Linked DNA regions of Homo sapiens: region 2 is linked to region 1. The links come from fine-mapping of genetic effects on gene expression. A gene starts in region 1. The other region holds a variant in brackets. All regions are shown on one strand. Distances are between the middles of the regions. Region 1 holds the start of RALGDS (ral guanine nucleotide dissociation stimulator). Region 2 has its middle 15 kb from the start of GBGT1.

What was found. PIP is the estimated chance that this variant, and not a neighbour inherited with it, causes the effect.
Region 2: its variant is fine-mapped to the expression of RALGDS in whole blood (INTERVAL, PIP 0.97).

The regions. Positions count from the first base shown.
Region 1 is chr9:133,119,602-133,122,496 of GRCh38, reverse strand. It overlaps RALGDS (ral guanine nucleotide dissociation stimulator), which reads left to right and starts at 1,257. Exons shown (of 18, transcript NM_006266.4): 1 at 1,257-1,525. The coding sequence starts at 1,343. RefSeq lists a silencer at 968-1,677 and an enhancer at 1,657-2,353.
Region 2 is chr9:133,147,544-133,150,438 of GRCh38, reverse strand. It overlaps a transcript of RALGDS not described here. Among named protein-coding and RNA genes, the nearest start is that of GBGT1, 15 kb to the left of the region's middle. RefSeq lists silencers at 903-1,412, 1,443-1,532 and an enhancer at 942-1,589. The variant A/GGCGCA (reference allele first, on the strand shown) is at 1,264.

The DNA.
Region 1 (2,895 bases):
TTGGCACTTGGGAAGGGGGCAAGATGTGCTCGTGGAATGTGCTGTCTGGTCCCGCCCTCTCAGTTTACAGATGGAGAAACTGAGGCCCAATAGTACGGACCAGACCTGGGGAGGTTGGCATGGCCAGGGCTGCTGGCAGCAATTGCTGGCCTCCATGAAGACTGAAGGCTGAGGCCAGGGCAGGCCCAGTGATGAGTGAGGCATGAGGAAGGGTCCCATTCATTCATCCATTCTCCTGGCCCTGCTGTTAAGCCCCAGGCTGTCTTCCTTCCTCACTGGCTTCCAGAAAGAGTAGTTGAGGATGTCCCTGTCCCTGCTTCCCCTTCAGCCCCAGCAGCCCCACTTCCACCCTGAGACCAGGGATGTCCAAGCCACAAGCAGCCCCAGCTGACAGGCCACGCAGCCATGTGCTCTGCCCAGCGTTGTCACTCTTGATGCCTTCCTCCTTGTCAGATGCCTCTCAGCCCCAACCTTGGTGCCTTCCGCTCTCCCCCACCTCCCTGGCTTCCCCTCCTCTGAGGGTGTCTGTAAGGGGATAGTGTGGGGCTTTGCCCCAAAAAGGTAGGGCCCCACTCTCTGACCCTTTCCCCCACTGCACACACAGCCCCACACTCAGGATTTCCAATTGCACTGACAGGGTCACTGAACACATGGTCAGCCTCTCCAAACTCCGCCTGAGCCTGTAGTCAGGTGCAGGTGCTCAGTGCTGAGTGCTTCATGTCCATTACGTAATGTCATCCTCCCCGCAACTGTTTGAGGAAGTCATTTTCACTACCCAGATTTTCCAGATGAAGAAACAGTGAGGCTCAGAGGGGTTAAGCAACTTGTGGAAGGCCACAGAGTTGGGGAGAGGCTTTGCTGGAATTCGGGGTAGCTGACTCCAGGGCGGCTTCCCCACACATGATCAGCACGTACACATTTCAGCCCTACGCAACACACGCACTGCAGCAGCGTGACACGCAAACGGTGCCTAACCGGGGTACCCAAGGCCCCACGACACACGTGACAGCCGGTCCTCCGGGAGACCCAGCCAACGCGCACCCCTCGACCTCCCCGGCCCCGCCCTCTTTGTTCAGACCCCGCCCCTCCAGGCTCCCGGTCCCGCCCCGGGTCTGACCTCGGCGAGGGCGGGGCCGCGGGCGCGCGCACGCACGCGTCCCTCGGACTCTCCGGTTCCGCCCCTCCCCGGCCCCACCCTCTTCCCCTCCGGCCCCGCCCCCCAGCCTGACATCAGCAGGGCCGGGCCGCGGGCTCACAGCGGTGGCAAAGCCCAGCCGCGCGGGCCGCGCCGCCGCCCCCGCCGCGCGCCGGGCCGGCCCCGCGCCCGCGCTGCGAGCCTTCCATGGTGCAGCGCATGTGGGCCGAGGCGGCCGGGCCTGCTGGCGGCGCCGAGCCGCTGTTTCCGGGCTCCCGGCGGAGCCGCAGCGTGTGGGACGCCGTGCGCCTGGAGGTGGGCGTCCCCGACAGCTGCCCGGTGGTGCTGCACAGCTTCACGCAGCTAGACCCCGACCTGCCGCGCCCGGAGGTGGGTGAGCTGGGGCGGTCGGGCGGGGGGTGCGTCGGAGCCTCCCCACCCGCGGCAGAGCTGGGCAGGTCGGGGCGAGCCCCGGACGGGGCCGGGCGATCCCAGCGGGCCGCCTCCCTCCTCTCTCCTCCATAGGTGGGGGTCGGGGCCTTCTGCAGAAATCAGCCAGCAGGGTGGGCAGTGGGGGCTGCCGCCGCGCCCCGTCCAACAGTAGGGACCACGGCTGGGGTTTTGCGCCCCTCAATACCGTTCCAGGGCCTGCTGTCACCAAGGCCGCTGCAGCCCAGGTGGACCTTTTTCTGCGGCACTGTCCCTGTTTACATCGGTGGCCTGTGCCTTATTTCACTCAGTTCCCACCCAGGGCCCGCAGCGCGTCGTTAGCCTTTACGATGCAGGTGTGGAACAAGTGGTCGGGAAGGCCAAATCCTAGAATCCTCAGAGGTGATGAGACCATAGGGGCCTTCCAGACAGACCCTACTTGGGGCAGATGTGGATCTGGTGACCAGGGACATCGGGGCTGCTCAGAGCGGGGTGGGGGGGGGGTCGGGGGATGGGGTGGAGCAGCAGGCCTCCAACACGTGGGACCAGATGTCCTGGTGGTGAGGGGAGGAGGGTGGCCCAGGCCCAGGGCGGGCAAGACTTGTTTCTGCTTAACTGGAAAGAGTGCCAACACCCTGAATCGGTAAGGACTGGGTAGGATTCAGAGAAGGGAGTGGTGTACCTGTGATGGATGGAGGGGAGGGTGACTAGGTGAGGGCGGGGGCTTGTTTCTCGTGTGCCCTGGGTCTCTGGGTGGTGCCATCTGCCTCCCACCTGACTGCTGCTGACTACACAGCAGAGGGAGTGGAATCCAGAGATGCCCCCCTCGCCCTGCTCTGCCTGGGCACAGGGCCTGCACAGAGGCCATTCCTGGATCGGGGGCTCAGGGCCCATCAGAGCTTTGGCTGGGCTGCAGCCTTCACAGTGAACCTCCTGAGTCCCCGTGCGGCATCGTGTTGCCTTGCTGCGTCTCCAGTCGCTTCATGGCTTTAGACTGTGGCGCGTTGTGATTGCTGGCGATTGTTAGCCTGAGTCTCGTGCCTCTTGGTGTCCCGGTACCTAGACAGGGCCTGGATGCGACTTGTTTCTCCGCCCAGTGTTGGGCAGAGCTCTTGGTGGGGGAACACCACACGCCTGAGAGACCCTTTCCTCCTGAGCTTGGCAGATGGCCGGACCAGACGTGTTCCCTCAACCCTCATCTATCCAGGGCTCTGGTCCTCATTGGCGGCTGGAGAGGGACCCCTGGGAGGGTGGGGGTGGGAGGCTGACACCAGCCCAGCGCTCATCTGGCTTTCATTACCTCTGGCAGCAGCTCGGGCTTTGTGTGCTGG
Region 2 (2,895 bases), 28 kb before region 1:
AAAAATTAGTCGGGCGTGGTGGTGGCAGCGTGCACCTGTAATCCCAGCTACTTGGGAGGCTGAGACAGGAGAATCGCTTGAACCCAGGAGGCAGAGGTTGCAATAAGCCGTGATCTAGCCACTGCATTCCAGCCTGGTCGACAAGAAGGAGACTGCGGCTGGTGCAGTGGCTCATGCCTGTAATCCCAGCACTTTGGGAGGCCAAGGTGGGAGGATCACCTGACGTCTGGAGTTTGAGACCAGCCTGGCCAACATGGTGAAACCCCATCTCTACTAAAAATACAAAATTAGCCGGGCGTGGTGGCAGGTGCCTGTAATCCCAGCTACTCAGGAGGCTGAGGCAGGAGAATTGCTTGAACCTGGGACGTGGAGGTTGCAGTGAGCCGAGATCGCGCCATTGCACTCCAGCCTGGGGGACAAGAGTGAGACTTCGTCTCAAAAAACAAACAAACGAGACTCCATCTCAAAAACAAAAGTAAATAAAAAATAAAAAGGGACGAAATCAGTTAGCCCTAATAACACTGACTACCCCCAACAGTCGCTCAACCCCAGTGTGAGGCCTCCTTCCCCCAGGCTCCCTTGAGCCCCATCTTACACCAGCTGAAGCTGCAGCTGGACCTTGTGGTCCCGGGTGCTGTCAGGGAAGACAAGGAGGGAGGTGGGGAAGAGGAGGGGAAGGGGAGACCTGACTTTCTCCCTGCCCAGGCTGAGTTCGCTGTCACCTCGGGTCCCCCAGCTCCCAGCCATCCGCCGAGCCGAGTCCAGCAGGTGGCATCGGGGTGCTGGGCGCCAGGGTGAACGTGTATATTTGGTGACGCCGGCGCGCCGACTCAGCGGCCCCCGCCTGGCTGGGGCGAGGTTGGCCCTAGGTCCTAGCGGGGTGGGGAGTACTGAGCAGGCGGCTGGGGCGGACGGACACGTGAGATCGGCCGCACATGGCGCTGGGAGCGTGGCGCGTGCGCGCGGCGAAGCGGAGTGACGTGCACGCGCTGTCTGCGGTCCCGCGCAGGCCCCGTGTGCGCGCCCGGCCTTGGACAACAGGCCCGGCTGCCCCGCGGGGGGAACACCCGCGTCGGCCCGCGGGAGGGAGGCCTGAGCGCGCCCCCGAGCGCGTCCCCGAGCTCACGCGGCGGGGCGCGCCCCTCGCACCTGCGGGCGGGCTGGGGCGGGGCCGCGGCTGTCCCCGCCCACCCGGGCCCGAGCCCGGGGAGCCGGGGCGGAACCGAGCGGCGAGGCCCGAGCGGCCGGAGCGCGGCGCGGCGC[A/GGCGCA]GACAATGGGAGCGGCGCTGGCGGCTGCCGGGGCGGCCCCGAGGGCCGCAGAGTCCTGGGCCCGGCGGGGACCGGAGGCCGCGCCATGAGCCCCGCAGCCGGGCGCACCCCTGCGCCGCGCGCGGGCCCAGGCGAGCGGCCTCTGCGAGCCCCGGGTCCCGCCCTGGGGCCGGCGATGTGCCACCGAGGCTGAGGATGATGGTAGATTGCCAGGTGAGTGCGCGCCGTCCCCAGCCTCGCGTCGCGGGTGGAGGGAGGACCGTATGCCCCAGCCCACACCCACCGGGGGGAGGGAGCCCGGCGCCGCGTCCACGCTGAGCGTGCGCTTACGCAGCTCCGCGTCCAACCCCGCCCGGGACAGTAGGGAAACTGAGGACAGGAGAGGGGCAGGGACTCGCCCGGGGCACACGAAGTTGGCGGAGTCCAGAGATGAAGGGAGGGTTCCGGCCTCTTAGGCCAGGAAGGGCTCGGCTCACCCTTCCCGTGGGGTTTGCTTTGGGAATGACAGCCTCTAAGATCCTGGGGACCCCTGCCCATCTCCCATGTGGGCTCATTTGCCTGGGCTTCTCCGCGCACGTACAGGCGCAGGCCTGCGCATACATGCTCACACACACGCAGACACACACACCACACACTTCCTGGGGCTCAGAGTAGGACGGGACGCTGGGGAAGTGACTGGGGGAAAGAAGAAAGAGGGCGGGGGCTACTCTGCCACGGGCAGGGGCATCCAGTACCCAGCAACATGCCTGGGGCCATGGCACGGGGTGGGGGGCAAGGGGAGGACACGCCAGCTTGATGGGCGGGGATTCTCCAAGGTTCCCAGGATCTGTCTGGGCTGGGGCAGCCTGGAGAGGACAGATTGTGGGGTTCTGTGTTCACCGCTGTGATCACCTGGAAGCAGGAAAAGACCCCTTCAGTGTGGACGGGGCTGTAGGAAAGGAAGCCTCAAATTCCTGCTCTATAAATTGGAATGTTTGGCCTGGGTGACTCCAAGGGTCCCACAGGCTCGTAGACGTGTCTGTCGGCCTTAGGTCTCCACTGGGGATGCCCCCACTACCCACCGAGGTCTGTGGAAAATGCCTTCTTCTTGGAGGTTCTTCTGAGCAAGAGAAGCCGGGGGGGCTGAAGGGCTGAGGGCCTGGGGTGGTGCAGAGCGTGGCCAAGCACTGGACAACTCTTGTGGGACAAGACTGTCCTTGTTGGAGCCTCAGGGTTCTTATTTGGAAGTGGGGCCAGAGCCGTTGCCCTGGTTGGAGTGAGGAGGCCTCACGAGTGAACTGGACACCCCAGGACCAGCAGAGGGAAAGAGGGGAGCAAATGAAGCTTCTGAGGCGCCTTGAATTACCCCTGGAGCCTGCAGGTTCTGCTCCTTTGACCCCCTGGGACTCAGGAGAGCTGCTACCTTGACAACACCCAAACAAAGGTGTGTGTTTTGTTTTCTGGGTTTTCTGCCTGAGGCTGCTGCTGCTGTGCTAGTGCCGGCCACCAGGGGGAGGCAGTGCCCACTGTACTCATTGGAGCAACTGGAGTCAGGGAGAGCCCGGCAGGGTCCCTCTGGGGGACCCCGGCCTCTACCCAATGCACACCCCCCATTACTAGCATCCCTCTCCACAATGTTAGCTGCTCAGAGGC